Regions from separate parts of the Homo sapiens genome. Here region 2 is linked to region 1. Evidence: fine-mapped expression QTL. Tissue or cell type: sun-exposed skin. Region 1 holds a variant in brackets; the other region holds the start of a gene. All regions are shown on one strand. Distances are from middle to middle.

Region 1 (8,096 bases):
GGTGAAGCCTCGTCTCTACAGAAAAATTTAAAAATTAGCTGGGCATGGTGGAACGTGCCTGTGGTCCCAGCTCTCAGGAGGCTGAGGTGGGAGGATCACCTGAGCCCAGGGAGGTTGAGGCTGCGGTGAGCTCTGATCATGCTATTATTGCACTCCAGCCTGGGTGACAGAGTAAGATCCTGTCTCAAAAAAAAAAAAAAAAAAGAAAAAGAAAAAGAAAAAAGAAAAAAAGAAGAAAAAGAAATCTTTGTGGATGGATTATGAAAGGTGTTAACTGACCCCATCTGCTCCTTCTCATACTTCCCACATCAGAACCATTGTGTGCCCCCTCCCGACCTTCCCAAGCCTCCAAACCAAATGAGAGTCCCATTGACCAGCCTAAAGGGTTGCACCCCTAGCACCAGCCATACTTCCTGAGAAGGCAGAGAGTAGAAGAGAAAGAGGATGTACTGGGCTAAGGGGCTGTTGGGCATAGGAAGACTCCTCAACGAGAAAGGGTAGGAGACAGAGGCTTGGGCATTACCCTTCCCATCAATTAAAAAAAACTCCAAACAGCCACAGCACTCCCACACCCACATGGTGTTTGGATCAGATTGTCTGGATTGCTAGTGGATTGTGCAAGCAAAGGGATGCAGGGCAGGCAGGAGAGACCCTCATTTTTATAAGCCCCCGGGAGAGCTGGCATCTTGCATGCCACACCTGCCAAAGGGCTGCGCTGGGGGAAGAAAGCAGTGATGTAAAGATGCAGGGTGGGTGGGCTGGATAGGGAGGTGGGGGTGTGGGAGGGGATGGGGCCCAAGGACCAGAAAAGTCCAGGGAATCATTTCTAATTCCACTGCCTCAGGAGACAAGTCTTTCAACTTCCTCCCTTCCTTCACAGCTGCTCCCCCACTTCACAGCCCCTGTCATGTAGAATCCCCATTAGCCCTGACATCCAGCAACTCCACCTGGGAGTGGGGGCAGCAGCAGAGTGGGGGACAGAGGATTAGGGGATCCACACAGCCCTTCCCTCAGGAGGAAGGGCTGGGCTGGAAGGGGCCTAGAGGCAGCTGCAAAGTGCTTGCTGCAGGTCCTCTGGGAGTCAGATGCCTTCCCCGGCCAGGCCGCTCGGGTGACCGGGGTGAGATATCGAAGCTCAACATCTTAGCACATCAGCCTCAGCTGTGAGTTGCCTTCCTGGGCTTCTCGCAGCCTCCAGGCCTGGCTCTGGGTGAACACATCGCTTCATGGCCTGGACCCATCATTGCAGATAATCCACTTAGGCGGCTGTTTCTGTTCAGCATTGGACTATGCCCATCCTTCAAGGCCTTGCCCTTGACTGACTACTGCAGCCCACTGGGTCCTCTCCCCACTGCTGTCCCACGGTACTACAGACTGGGACCCTAGAGGGATGTCTCTCCCGTCAGATGTCTTAGAGCTCTGCCTCTCCCCTGTTAAGCCAGCCTGATCTTTTCTTCTAGGCTGTTTGGTTTGGACACAGCCAAAATGGGGGCTGAGCAACAGAGGTGTCCTTGACTGCAAGCCGGTCCTTTTGTTTGTACACTGCCGCCCCTACCTCCGTGTGTCCCTTGCATGGAGTGGCAAAACGAGGCCCAGAAAGTGGGCTAGTTTCTGGCAGGACGCACCACAGTTCAAGACGGTATCCTGCAGCGCTCAGCGATTATGGCCCACTCTGCAACCCTGGGATGTTCGCCTTGACCCTGGAGAGGGAAGCGGGTGCATTGCCACAGGCAGAGGGCTGGATCAGAAGACCCAAAGGGCGCTCCTTCCATGGGCCTTCCAGAGACTTTGCAGACACTCCCTCCAGCTGCCCGGCCCACCCCCTCTCCATTGTCTTAGCTGACACTTTGGGTTGCGCTCCGGACTTCTGGCTGGTGGAGCGCCTCCCTGCCCCCACCTCCCTACCGCCTTTTCTGTCAAAGGCTCAGCGGGGCCCCCGCGCGGCCCACTAATTAGCGCTGGCCCAGCCACACCTGCAGCGTCCTGGGAGAGGGCTGAGACAGGCGCCCATGCGTGAGGCCGGGATGGGGGCAAGCCCGGGGCAGCAGGTCCCGCACCTCCTCCCTGATCCCGCTGGAGGGATTAGAGGAGGGAGGGCAGGGGCTGGAAGCTGAGGGCTCTTCAGCCCAAGACCCTGCTTGTTGGGACTCTCTCCGTGTAACTCCTTCCCCTTCCAGTTGAGGAAACCGAGGTGGGGAGGCAAAGACAGTGGTTTGGCACTCAAGCTCCTGGGGGATCTTCAGGGATCTGACCTGGCTTCATCCCTCCAACCAGGCTGCCAGCTTGTCCTTCCTGACCTTTGCTCCTGCTGGGCACCTCCACCCTCCAAGCCCAACATCTTCTGCCCAAACAGATGAAGCTCCAGGATACCTCCTCCCCAGCCGGGAGCCAAGGCCCTTGGGGAACCATTCTAGCTCCACGGGAGGCACAGGGGACCCTTCTTTCCCAAGGTAGATGTTGGCAGGGTCAGCTCCCCAGGCTGCCTCCACTCTTTCTAGTGTCTCCTCCTTTCTAGCCAATCCTCTCTCAGCCACTGCAGTGAAATCAGCCTTAAAGTCTCAGGCCTCTTTAGCCCACCTCCCCCGGGGGAGGGGAATGCCTAAGTCACCTGGACTCACCTCCACCGTGGCCCAGCGAGCACTGGGGCCTCCCTGCCCTTAGGCACCCCCAGCTTTTCTCCCAGAGTTCTCCTGTCTGGGAGTGCTTACAGACCCAGGGTAGGAGGCCAGGCTGGGGAGGAGACAGGTGGAGAGGGACAGAGTGGCCCTGCCTCTGGCGTACTGAGGGTGCAGCCCTAAATTTCCAAACCCTTGCCAGCCCTGCGCCTGTCCACAGGCCCCAGGGAGAACCACCCCCCTCATCCCTCCCACTCCCAGAGCCTGAGGAGGAAGTGAGTGAGGCGGGGAGGGGATTGGGAGACACTGTGGATGAAGGGACACACCAAGGAATCCCAGCCTTCCCCTGGGGGTGGGAGGGCATCTGGGCTGGGCTGAGGCTGGCCCGGTGCATCCTGTGAGGATACTTGATAGGCAGCAAAAGTAAAGGCGCTGGCAGGGAGCAGAGCCTAGAGGGGCTCCCCTGCACTGACCTTTGCTCTGGGTCCACTGTTGGGTTGTTTGGTGTGAACACATTCTCCTGGGTGGAGGCCATATAGAGCCAGCATCGAGGGAAGCATGCAAACATGGGGGGCGGGCACAGCCATCCCTGGGTTCCAGCCTGGGTCAGAACCTCCAGGGCATGTTGACTATACATAAGGGGCTGGGTGGGAAAGAGCTGGCTGGAGGTGGCTCCAGGCTTGGGCCAACCTGCCCAGAGGAGTGTGGGGTTAGATGGTACCTATAGGGTCCCTGGGTATCAGGAGGTGGGGGCACTTTCCAGGAAGAAGGAAAGCAGAGCATGAAGGTGCAGATCACACACCACACTCAGCACCCAGCAACTCCCGGGTGCCTGCAGGGAGGAGGGACGGCCTGCAGGGAGTGGGGCTCATCACAACAGACTGGCAAGAGTCACACATGCCAGCTCAGGGCTCCAGGCCTGGGCTCTGGACCCAAGGGGGCCCAGTCACTGCATATTTCTGGGCCTTGGTGACCCTAGCTTTGGCCTAGGGAGTATCCGGACCTCCTATCCTCCCCCGAGCTCCATGGGGCAGGGCCTACAGGCCTTGCTTGAGAAATCTGACCCACCCCATTCTCACCATTTCTTCTTAGCTGGAATGTGCTCCACCCTCAGCACCTGCCTCAGGCCTCAGGAGGTGCCCCACACCCCAGGGCTCTCCTCCCATGCGCCCCCGGGCCCCTTTACTCTGATTTCACCCCTCAGCTACCCTCTGAGTTCACTCCACCTCCTCTCCTGGCCTGGATAGCAACAGAGGAACAGAGGGAGGTGGGGTGGCTGCATCAGGCTCACTTCCCCTCACACCACACTCCCTGTTAGGAGCCTCTGGCTCTGCATAGCTGTGGCGGGCCATGCTGGTTTACTCCAGTGAGCCTCTGGCTCTGCATAGCTGTGGCGGGCCATGCTGGTTTACTCCAGTGAGCCTCTGGCTTTGCATAGCTGTGGCGGGCCATGCTGGTTTACTCCAGTGAGCAGGGCGGCCTGAGAATTCACCAGGCCAGGGAGAGTGACCTTGGACAAGGAGATGCAGGGGTTCCCTTTGGTCCTCTGGACCTTGCCCCAGACATCTGGGCCACCCTTGCAGGACAGGCACAGGAGCCACAAGTAGGGCCTCCCCTCTGAAATTGACAAGGGTACATCCCAGCACCTGTAGACACTTCCATGCCCCACACCTGGATACGCATTCTTATCCCAGCTGTACACACACTCACCATACTCAGATATGTGACACTGCCAGAACACATACACAAGTGTTCTCTCCATGAGTGCACATGCACACACGTACATCACACCTAAGTGCACACACACACACCTTTGCCCTGAGTGCATAAGCATGCAGTCACACATTTCCTTACCCCAAGTGAAGGTGGGAGCACCCCCTAG[G/A]CACATGCTCCTACCTGCTTATGCACACAGGCACCCTCCTCAGAACACACATACGACATGCACCCATTGATGTGACGCACACGGGGCACCTATTTCCTCAGGCTGAGAGCGCTGACACTCTGCACTGCCACACACACCACTCCAAGTACACTTAATCACACCCCGCCTGACTCTGAGTGCTTGGGTGCACACTCCTCACACAGGCACGTTTACACAAGAGCAGGTGCACAGCACACCCCACTCTCAGGGGCAACTGGAAGCTATCTCTGGACTTCGGGTGTTACAGCAGGATTGGGCTGATGACAGCTACTCCCCAGCCCTCTCTTCTGGGGTGGGCTGGGCTGGGGACCTGCAACCCTTCACCTGCAGAGGTGGCCTCTGGTCCAGGTGGCCCCACTGCGTCACTCTGCTGGACAGAGAGCCCTCCAGGTCTCCCCAGGTCTTGGGTCCTCCTCCTTTTCTGAGGCAAGAAGCGGGGCCCGGGAACCTGGCAGCCCACCCCAGCTCCCCACCCTGACCTCACCCGTCACGGTGGAGGGGCTACTCACTGACACGGGGGTGGGTGATGTAGTTTCGGGTGACCGCCTGCATGTGTTCTCGGGCTGCACCTAGGTTGCAGCTACTGCCGGGGAGCCCCCCAGGCCTGCTGTCTATCTCCATGGCCATGGAGCAGTCCCCAGCTGGGAGCCCAGTGTCTGAGCCTGCTGCTGGTGGCAGCTCTGAGACTTCAGGTCCAGCTGGAGCTGGAGAGAGCTGCTCAGCCTTCCCCTGCAGCCACCCCTCCCCTCTCCCCCTCCCCTCCCTCTCCTCCTCCTCTAGGTTGACAGTAAACAAGGAAGCCTGGGGCTCTGGCTCCCAAGCTTTCCCCACACCAAGCTGTGCAGGTCTGGGAGGGGCCCCCGTCACCTGAGAGCTGGAGGATGTGGAGGGAGAAGGGAAGAGGGGAGGGCTGGCTTTTTCCTTCTTCTGTGCTAGGCGGTTCCTCCCCGCCAACCCCAAACTGTATGAATTCAATTCCTCCCCTGGACCATCAGGTGCTGTCAACATTCCCACACTCGTCCCTCACCACAGCTCTTTCTGGTCTCTCCACACCCAACTTCTGGCAGGCTGCCCTTTCTTCACTGTTCTCGCAACCTGACCTTACCCTGCACTCCTTGCCCTGACTATACCTGGATACTTCTGCCCCCTGACAATTCCATCGTCATCTTTTTGAACATCTGTAGAGAATTATTTCCTGGTCAGCCTCAGTGCCATCTCCTACATGAAGCCTTCTCTGGATTCTCTAGCAGCCAAGATTTACTACACATCTAGCCTCTTTCCTAAGTCATGCCCTTTAGGAGAGGCCTCTCTTGTCCCTGCCACTGGGCTGTGAGCCCCCAAAAGCTGAGCCTGTGTCTCAACCCACAGACCTGGGTCTCCTGAAGCCTGTCTGTCTCATACTATTGAGAGTTCTTGAGAATGAGGGCTGGTCTCTCTCCATCTGATCATAGAACCGTGTCTCATCTTCTCACATTCACCTCCAGATTTCTATACAGCAGGCCTGCCCTGACCTTTCCAGCCCAGGTCAGAAAGTAAAATGGAGGTCCCTGTATTGTATAACTAAATACCTGGAGTTATAAATCAAACTATGTGCACAGCCTGGCCTGGGTTCCACCCAAGACCTCACCACTGCTTCCCAAGAACTCTCTCTTCATGTCATGAAACTAAGAGTTGTGGTTTCTCCTGGTGAGTGGAGTGTGGTACAGTTCCTCTGGGCAAGGCAGGGTGGACCCTGGGTGGTAGCTGGACCTGCCCAACCCAAGGTCTTCTAGTCACCCCCATGCCTCATTCTAGGCTCAGGATTTCTGCATTTCTAAGCTCCTCCCCAAACCATACCACTGAGCAGAGGGAACGGCAGAAGTACATTTGCCTAGGGATCACTGTCCCCAAGCACCCACTCCAGGTGACTCAGGACAGCCAATTTGAAACCAAAGCAGCAGCTACTATGTTTCTCAGAGCAGACTGGAGGAGACTGTGCTTGTTATTTCTCTTCACAGAGTCAAAATCTTACCCCGCATCCTCCCTCCTGAGGACCCATTTCAGGTCTCTGGTTCCTAATGCCCATCCTTTCAAAGAACTCTCCTGTGGAGGGCGGGGGTGGGTGTGACCATCAAGGAGCAGCATGAGGAAGATCTCTGTGGTGATGGAACAGGTCTGCATCTGGATTGCAGCAGTGAGTCCATGAATCTATAAAATGACATGGCACTATGCACACACACGGTACCAATGCCAATTTCCTAGTTTTGATATTGTACTATAGTTAGGGAAGATGAAGCCTATCTGTCTCATACTATTGAGTTCCTGCCAATGGAAGGAACTTCTCTGTCCTATCTCTGCAGCTTCCTGTAAATCTATAATTACTGCAAAATAAAAAGTTAAATAAAAGAGTCTTGAGCAAGACTCTTATTTAACTTTAAAAAAATTTATATTGTTTGAGCAATATGAAATATATATAATATGTATGTGTGTGTGTGTGTGTGTGTGTGTGTATATATATATATATATTTTTTTTTTTTTTTGAGTCAGAGTCTCCCTCTGTTGTCAGGCTGAAATGCAGAGGCATGATCTTGGCTCACTGCAGCCTCCACCTCCTGGGTTCAAGCGATTCTCCTGCTTCAGCCTCCTGAGTGGCTGAGATTACAGGCGCCCGCCACCATGCCCAGCTAATTTTTGTATTTTGAGTAGAGATGGAGTTTCCCCATGTTGGCCAGGCTGTGTATAGATATTTTAAAGGGTTTCATGTTGCAGTTTGTGATGGGTAGGCCGTCTCTAAACATCTGGACTCTTGCTTGTGTTTAGCTTTGATGCTCTCTCTCCCTCTCTCTCAACCTGGTCTCCCCTTTCACCATTCACCCTCTTCAAGGTGACAATGTTTCCCTCTCTCAAGTATTTTTATGTTTGAAAGAGAGCTTGTAAAGGGCAACATTTAACCAAAGAATTCGTGTTGGTGCCATGGGCTTCTATTGAGTGGGAATCAGGTGCCTGCTGACCGACACATGTGAGTCCCCTGACCCCCAGAATCCCAGTTTCTGCCCTCTCCCATCTGAGGTCCCTCTGACTCTAAGCCCATTTTCCCTTCCAGTGACAAGAGGGATAGAAGGGATTGAGGGGTAAGTAGTTGTGCTGTGGGCACCATTTCCCTTCTTGTCATTGTTTTCCTTTTATTTCAGTGAGAGACACACACACTCACACTGCACTCACGCACACAAGCTGCGGGACCAAGGCCATTTGGTCACGAGTCTCTGAGCTGGGGGGCAGGTGGGGAAGAGTGTGTGGCTGCAGCCCCTCCTCTCCGGGGCCTGCTCAGTGCTGTCCGCTGGGGCACAGGAGACTGGGAAGGTGCTGTGCTCGGGACTCAGTGTCACAGGGTGGGAGTCTTAAGTGTTAGCTTTCTTGCAGCTGCTGGCGCTGCCCACTTTCCGTTCTAGCCAGCTGTATGGCTCGAAGGCCGAGGAACCCAGTTCGTAGCCGGCAGGCAGATCCAGGAGCGGGGCCGAGGAAAAGCAGACAGCTGGCAGAGGGGGCGGCAGTGGGGGGGACGCTGAGGCCGAGGACAGCGG
Region 2 (8,103 bases), 120 kb after region 1:
CCTCTCAGTGAAGACATAGCAACCCCCTGGTTTTTCTGCCCTGCTGGTAGATGGTGTTCCTGTGGGAAATAGAAGAGCTAGGGCCCGGAGGGTGGGTGGGGAGGCCAGGGAAGAACTATGCCCCTCTCCTGGCCCAGACTCTGACCTTCCAGTTGGGCAAGGGATCCGTAGAGTTCTGCCTTCGAGGTTCCCTCAGCTCTCAGGCCTCAGGAGGAAATAGGTCCTGAGTAGGTCCAGCCTGGGCCCTTCCTGTGTATGGGGAAACAGAAACCAAGACAAGCCCTTTCTTTTCAGCCACCAGCCCTGGGTGTCTGATGGGCCTCTAGGGAGGCACCTCCAGCAGCTTCCATCCCATTCTATGTGGCGGTGAAGGAGTCTGGCAGACACCACTGGGATCTCAGGCAGCGCTGTTGATAGTCCAGAAATAGGTGCCTTCACCCTTCATTCCTGCTGTGCCCTCCTCTCTAAGGTCAGTTTTCAACAAACAGGAGGTAAAAGGCAGCAAATGGTGGCTCTGCACTCTACACATTGGGCCCCTAACACTGCACAGTTCAACACACACACACACACACACAAACACACACACCCCCACCATCATGAACTGGGTGTGGGCAACCGCTCCCTTCCTGTCTGCAGATCCCCTACCCACGGGGCGACTTGCTTGCCGGGTTGACATCAGCCACGCATGGCACAGGCTCCTCCTGGGCCAAAGCTGTTCTCCTGGCCCGGCCTCAGAGGAGGCACGTTCCGTGTGGCTTCTCCACCTTTGTGGTTGGTCTGCAGTGTTGTTAGTTGGCAGCTGGGGACCTATAAGAGGCTGACCCCAGGATCTGTGCAAAAGACATGAGAATGGGACATAGGAACAGAGGGTGAAAGTAGCAAAGAAACAACACAACATGGATGGAACAAGCCATTTGCAAGGTTGTGAGTTTGTTTAAGAGTTGCTATGATGGTGTAATATGTAATTAGACTTTCCAAAGTGAAAGAAAATGTGATTTATTTCAAAAAGATTGTGACCGTTTGAAGTAATGGAGACAAGAAGGAACCAAAGAACAGGAATCTGCTGGTAACCCCAGCACTGGCTTTTAGAGGGGTTCCTTGACCAGCCATGGGAATATTGGTTCTGTTCAGCTGGTAACCCCTGTGGCAGGGACAGGGACATCACGTTTGCACAGCTCCATGGCACTGTCCACTGGGATGCCTCATGCCTTCTCTTCTAATGCTAGGCCCACCCAGCAGCAGGAACCCCTGAAGCAGTATCTGTTCCTCCTGGAAGGGATAGGGCTCATTGAAAGCCACACATTGGCCCCAGCCTGCTCCATCAGATTCTTTGGAGTTAGTCTTGAGAACCTGGTCACCTCAGGAGGCATGGATCCAATCAGCTAAAGTTGGGGCCTGCTTGGTATTTTCTGACACCACTTCTGACACCAAATGTGTGCTTTTTCCTGACACCAGCCGATTCTCTGACACCCGCTGGGCATCCAACAATTCAAACAGATTCTAACACTAACTTCCAGAGTTAGCACAGATCTCACAGGGTAAGGCCTCAGTCCCACAAGACTGCCCCCCTTCAGATGCTAGCTACAAGTGAGGTAGTGACCCCACTTCTGCCTGGTCAACTACAAATTTGGGGGTTCTGGCTAGGCAAGGTGGCTCATGCCTGTAGTCCCAGCACTTTGGGAGGCTGAGGTGGGAGGATCACTTGAAGCCAGGAGTTCCAGACCAGCCTGGGGTATAAAAAGAGATCCCATCTCTACAAAAAAATAAAAATAAAAAATTAGCCAGGTATGTTGGCACACACCTGTAGTCCCAGTTATGCTGGGGTTATGCTGGATGTGACAGAGGCTGGGATGTTGGGGCTGAGAACTGAGGATCACTTGTGTCCAGGAGTTCAAGGCTGCATTGACTTATGATCGTACCACTGCACTCCAGCCTGAGTGACAGAGGGAGACCCTGTCTCAAACAAAAAATTAGGGGGTTTCTGCAACAACCTCTCAGTTTTCATAATTCACTAGAACAATTCACAGAACTCAGAAAAACACTGTACTTCCTATTCTTTTATTGTAAAGGACAAAAACAGCCTGATGAAGAGGTACACAGGGCAAGGCCCAGTGGGGTCCCAAGTGCAGGAGACTCTGTCTCTGTGGAGTCAGGGCATGACACCCTCCTGGCATGTGGATCACCAATCCCTAAGCTCCTTGAATCTCATTTTTTAAGAGTCGTTATAGCCCAGACCCCAGGCCATCTCCCATACCTGGAGGTCTGGGAGTAGGGAATGGGAGTGGGTGGCTGAAAGTCCCAGTCTTCCAAAGTCTAATCCCATGTTTGGTCTTTCTGGGACCAGCCTCCAGCCTGAAATTATCTAAGGGTCCACCCTGTGTCACCTCATTAGCATAAACCCAAGTGTAGTCCTAAGGGGCTTATTATGAATAACAAAAAACACTCCTGTCACCCAGGAAACTCTAAGCGTTTTAGGAGTTCTGTGTCAGGAACTGAGATGAAGACCAGATATATTTTTTACAGAGTTGTCCCTTGGTATCTGCAGGGGATTTGTTTCAGGACTCCCATGGGTACCAAAGTCCACAGATGCTCAAGTCCCTTGTACAAAATCATGTAGTATTTTTATATAACCTCCGCACATCCTCCTGTATACTATAATTCAGTTGTGAGTCCCCAAGTGGCTGGTCACCCCGCTTCCTCCTTTGACCTGCAAATATCGGCCGCACTGACCTGGCCCCTCTTTTACCTGACTCCTTTTACTTAAGAGGTTCTGAGGCTAGAATTAAAGGTCAGCCATAGTCATAAGGATGTTTTCTGTGCAAAGCTGAGACCCCCTTCCTAGGTGCCAGTCCCAGCCCCCAGAGAAGAAGAGGTGTGTTTGGGGTTATGCTGGATGCGGCAGAGGCTGGGATGATGGGGCTGAGAACTGACGGGAAGGTGCTAATGGGAAGAGGAAGAAAATAGGGCAGATGGGTATCTGGGAGCCTCTAGGGGAGGGGCCCACTGGGGCGGGTTTCTGCAGAGTCAGGCAGGGAGGGAGGAAGAGCTGGGAGGGTGGTCAGGAGCATATAAGTGTGGGTGTCTCAGCTTTGCTTCCACTGCCATTGGTCCACGGGACGGCCCTTCCAGGAGCCAGTGGCTGGGAGCAGTGCTGGAGGATCAAGGAAGCAGAGATGGACGGTGAGGCAGTCCGCTTCTGCACAGATAACCAGTGTGTCTCCCTGCACCCCCAAGGTGAGAAAACTGGGGCCCCAGCTCTTGCCCAGTGAGGGAGTAGCCTGCCTGTCCTTTGGCCCTCTGCCATAAGGCAGCTTATTGCTGTCTTATTGCTCTCCCCAGACCCTTGTCCTTGGGGATGCAGACCTGGCAAGAGAAAGGGGATGAACTTTGAATTCAGATGGTCCTGGCTTGGAATCCCGGCTCTGCACACTGAGCTGGTCCTGTGAGGCCTCCCTCCCTTCCTTTCTTCTTTCATTCAAACTACACTTTTGTTGCTCTGTGCTCTGTGCCAGGTTCTGTGCCCTGTGCACCACCAAAGCCTCCTTGAGATTTGGAGATCGGTGGTCTCGGTCTCAGAGCTCCTCAGCTCTGTGTTGCTACCATATCCACATCTAGCTCTGGTGAACAGCCCAAAGTGTTTTGTCTTCCTTCTCCATAACCACCTGCATGATAAGCATGGCAGGAGTTATCATCCCCATTAGACAACCCAGGAAACAGAATCAGAGAGGCTGTGTCTCAGCCTGCACAGCACCCTCTTACCTTGCACAGCACCCTCTCACCTTGGACACTGCCTTCTCCCCTGCAGAGGTGGACTCTGTGGCAATGGCTCCTGCAGCCCCCAAGATACCGAGGCTCGTTCAGGCTACCCCGGCATTTATGGCTGTGACCTTGGTCTTCTCTCTTGTGACTCTCTTTGTAGTGGGTAAGCCCCCAGGTGACCCAAATCTCACTAACTTTCTCTCCTTTCAGCACAAAGTCCCCAGGGGCCCCAGATGCACACTCTCTGGGCCTCTCTGCTCCCAGAAAGATCATTCCACCTCCAGCTCCAGGCCCAAGCCACAGCTTCCCTGGGAACAGATAAAGGCCACTGTCCAAGGGGGAGCCTCCCAAGAACTGAGGTTCATGAGGGAAACCCTGGGAGGGTCTTTGCTGCTATCTCCCCGGTTCTGGAACTCTACCTCTGTGTGGGACAGCGTATCCTCCCAGGCTCAGGGCTGGGGATTTGCTGACCTGGAAAAATGGAATGTCTCAGTTCAACAGCAGACAAGACCTGTTCCGAAGCCTGTGCAAGCCGTAATTCTGGGAGACAACATTACTGGGCATTTACCTTTTGAACCCAACAGTGAGTAGCCACAGTGGGGGTGGGGTGCAGAGGGAACTGGGGCCTTCAGATGCTCAGACCCTAGGATGAGCTTCTCTCCTGGTACCCTCTGACCACTGAATGGGCTCCACCATCCTCACAGAAAGAGATAATTTTTTAAAAACACAGTTTTATTGAGGTCTAATGGTGTATATATTTAAAGCATACAATCTGTTAAGTTTTGACATATGTGTGTGCCCCTGAAACCATCACCACAATCATCATCACATAGTCATCCTCCTCACCCCAAAGTTTCCTTGTGGCTCTTTGTAATTCCTTCCTCTCCCTTCCTCTCCTCATCCCTGGGCAGCCACAGATCTACTTGCTGTAACTATAGATTAGTTTGCTTTTTCTAGAGTTTTATAGATAAGAGATCATAGAGTATGTACTCTTTGTTCTTTGCTAGTCATGTGATTTGCAAATATTTTTCTCTCAGTCTGTGACTTGTCTTGTCATTCTCCTAACAAGATTTTAATTTTGATAGTCTAATTTATCATTTTATTTCTGTTATGGATTATTCTCATGATCTCGTATGTGAGAAATCTGCCTAATCCAAGGCTACAAAGATGTTCTCCTTTGTTTCTGGAAATTGTACAGTTTTTAGTTTTAGTTTTTGTTTTTGTTTTTTGACGGAGTCTCGCTCTGTCACCCAGGCTGGAGTGCAGTGGCGTGATCTCGGCTCACTGCAAGCTCTGCCTCCCAGGTTCATGCCATTCTCCTGCCTCAGCCTCTGGAGTAGCTAGGACTACAGGCGCCCGCCACCACGCCTGGCTAATTTTTTGTATTTTTAGTAGAGACGGAGTTTCACCGTGTTAGCCAGGATGGTCTCGATCCCCTGACCTCGTGATCTGCCCACCTCAGCCTCCCAAAGTGCTGGGATTACAGGCGTGAGCCACCATGCCCAGCCCGGTTTTTAGTTTTACATTTAGGTCTCTGCCTCATTTGAGTTAATTATTGTATAATGGTGTGAAATTGATTGTTCCAGCACCATTTGTTGAAAAAGTTATCTTTCTCCGTGAATTGCCTTTGCACCTTTGTTGAAATTCGATTGTCCATATGTGTGGGGGTCTACTTCCGTATTCTCCATTCTGTCGCATTGATTTGTTTGTCTATCTTTACAAAGCAGAATCTTTGACTGAACTCCCAGTACCTTGAAAGGTCCCCTCTCTTACCTTAGCACAGTAACTGAGGTCTCACACATCTACATAGGCAGTGCATGAGAAATAGTACATGGATGCTCCAGAAAGGGTCCCTGCCATCTTGGGTTTTTCTCCCTATTCCTGAGGGGAGACTGGAATCAGAAGGGGATCATGGATGTGTGAGATTAGGTCCTAGTTCATGAGGTGAACAAAGGATGCTAGCAGGACCAGAGGTAGATGCATGTGAGGTTGGTGGGAAAGACCTTGCAGATTAAAGGGGCTGTGGGGTCTCCTTCAACGACCCCAGCGCAAGGCCTTTTACTCAGGTTTCCTGTATCCTCAAACTGTTCTGTAGGGACCCTTGCCCTATGTAACACTGGGGGTGCTGGCTCTTTAAAAGGCCATCTCAGCTGAGGTCCAGTGTTAGTTACCTGGAGGGCATGGCATGCCTCTATCATAGCCCTGTTGATTGAACAGGGTACTTCCTCCCAGCACACCTATTTTGTTTTGTTTCTGTTTCTTTCCTTTGTGTTTTCTTCTCCATGGAATTTGCCATCATAAAACTTATGTTTGTGGTGGTTTTTATCAAGTAACAATGGTGAATCAAGAGGCTCTATGCTTGGTGTACAAATATAATGTAGGACTAACCACAGGCTTTATTCATACCTATTTTCTTTCCCATAATGACCCATCTGTGGTGAAATTCCAGTAAAATTAAACTTCAACAGCTCTAAATGATAAAATCAGTTACTTTCAAGTTGAGCAATTATAACGACAAAATAATCCAAGCCTTACCAGCATGACTCCTGGTGGCAGCTGGCTTACAGCAGGCAAGCATTTCAATCCTTCTGACCCCTTCATTTGTGTGTAACAGTGAATTAGATCTTTGTTTCTTGGCCCACATTCTCAGGTGGACCGTCCCCAGGGTCTGGGTGGCTGTGTGACCAGGAGGGTGCTTGGGGGAGCACTGAGGGCTGTGCAGTACCCATTTCCCTTGGAAATGTTAGAAACACTCTGGGTGGCCCATAAAATGCTACCCTACATAATGGGCCTCTTTGGCTGCCTTCTTCACTTCCTCCCTCCAGATCATCACCACTTTGGCAGGGAGGCAGAAATGCGAGAGCTTATCCAGACATTTAAAGGCCACATGGAGAATTCCAGTGCCTGGGTAGTAGAAATCCAGATGTTGAAGTGCAGAGTGGACAATGTCAATTCGCAGCTCCAGGTGCTCGGTGATCATCTGGGAAACACCAATGCTGACATCCAGATGGTAAAAGGAGTTCTAAAGGATGCCACTACATTGAGTTTGCAGACACAGATGTTAAGGAGTTCCCTGGAGGGAACCAATGCTGAGATCCAGAGGCTCAAGGAAGACCTTGAAAAGGCAGATGCTTTAACTTTCCAGACGCTGAATTTCTTAAAAAGCAGTTTAGAAAACACCAGCATTGAGCTCCACGTGCTAAGCAGAGGCTTAGAAAATGCAAACTCTGAAATTCAGATGTTGAATGCCAGTTTGGAAACGGCAAATACCCAGGCTCAGTTAGCCAATAGCAGTTTAAAGAACGCTAATGCTGAGATCTATGTTTTGAGAGGCCATCTAGATAGTGTCAATGACTTGAGGACCCAGAACCAGGTTTTAAGAAATAGTTTGGAAGGAGCCAATGCTGAGATCCAGGGACTAAAGGAAAATTTGCAGAACACAAATGCTTTAAACTCCCAGACCCAGGCCTTTATAAAAAGCAGTTTTGACAACACTAGTGCTGAGATCCAGTTCTTAAGAGGTCATTTGGAAAGAGCTGGTGATGAAATTCACGTGTTAAAAAGGGATTTGAAAATGGTCACAGCCCAGACCCAAAAAGCAAATGGCCGTCTGGACCAGACAGATACTCAGATTCAGGTATTCAAGTCAGAGATGGAAAATGTGAATACCTTAAATGCCCAGATTCAGGTCTTAAATGGTCATATGAAAAATGCCAGCAGAGAGATACAGACCCTAAAACAAGGAATGAAGAATGCTTCAGCCTTAACTTCCCAGACCCAGATGTTAGACAGCAATCTGCAGAAGGCCAGTGCCGAGATCCAGAGGTTAAGAGGGGATCTAGAGAACACCAAAGCTCTAACCATGGAAATCCAGCAGGAGCAGAGTCGCCTGAAGACCCTCCATGTGGTCATTACTTCACAGGAACAGCTACAAAGAACCCAAAGTAAGTGGGAGAGGGGAGTCGCGTTTGGGGAGGGCACAGTCTCTTGAGAGGGTAGAGTCTTCCATCTCATCAGCCTCTTTTTTACTGCAACATGCATCTCCTTGACCAAATCCAGGGAAATGGGCCCAAGGAAACTGGGCAGTTGTAGAGATGGTGTGAGGTGGGAAGTTCCTGCTCTCAAGTTGCTTATAACCTGGTCACGGTGACCAAATGAACACGGGAAACCAACTGTAAATGGTGCACGTGTGTGATAAGGACGGCATGGGCTAGTGGGCCACACAGCCTTATTTCTGACTTCCTGATACCCCAAATGGTATGACCTTGAGCCTGTTACTTACCTTCTCTGAGCTACACTTTTCTCATCTGCAAGGGGGAGACAATAATATTTGCATCACAGTGA

Which allele goes with the higher level. Positions count from the first base shown, and alleles are read on the strand shown. Sizes are in standard deviations (SD) of each study's normalised expression.
For the expression in sun-exposed skin of the gene that starts at base 3,098 in region 2, allele G in region 1 goes with a higher level than allele A (moderate effect, 0.50 SD a copy in GTEx).

Evidence for each region. PIP is the estimated chance that this variant, and not a neighbour inherited with it, causes the effect.
Region 2: CLEC4F starts here. The variant in region 1 is fine-mapped to the expression of CLEC4F in sun-exposed skin (GTEx, PIP above 0.99). The same link has a PIP of 0.9 or more in unexposed skin.

The regions. Positions count from the first base shown.
Region 1 is chr2:70,933,022-70,941,117 of GRCh38, reverse strand. It overlaps VAX2 (ventral anterior homeobox 2), which reads right to left. Exons shown (of 3, transcript NM_012476.3): 3 at 7,672-8,096. The coding sequence ends at 7,914. ATP6V1B1 (ATPase H+ transporting V1 subunit B1) reads right to left here and starts at 5,218. Exons shown (of 14, transcript NM_001692.4): 1 at 5,046-5,218. The coding sequence starts at 5,163. RefSeq lists enhancers at 934-1,773, 1,774-2,614. The variant G/A (reference allele first, on the strand shown) is at 4,498.
Region 2 is chr2:70,815,594-70,823,696 of GRCh38, reverse strand. CLEC4F (C-type lectin domain family 4 member F) reads left to right here and starts at 3,098. Exons shown (of 7, transcript NM_173535.3): 1 at 3,098-3,234; 2 at 3,806-3,922; 3 at 4,253-4,342; 4 at 6,585-7,703. The coding sequence starts at 3,174.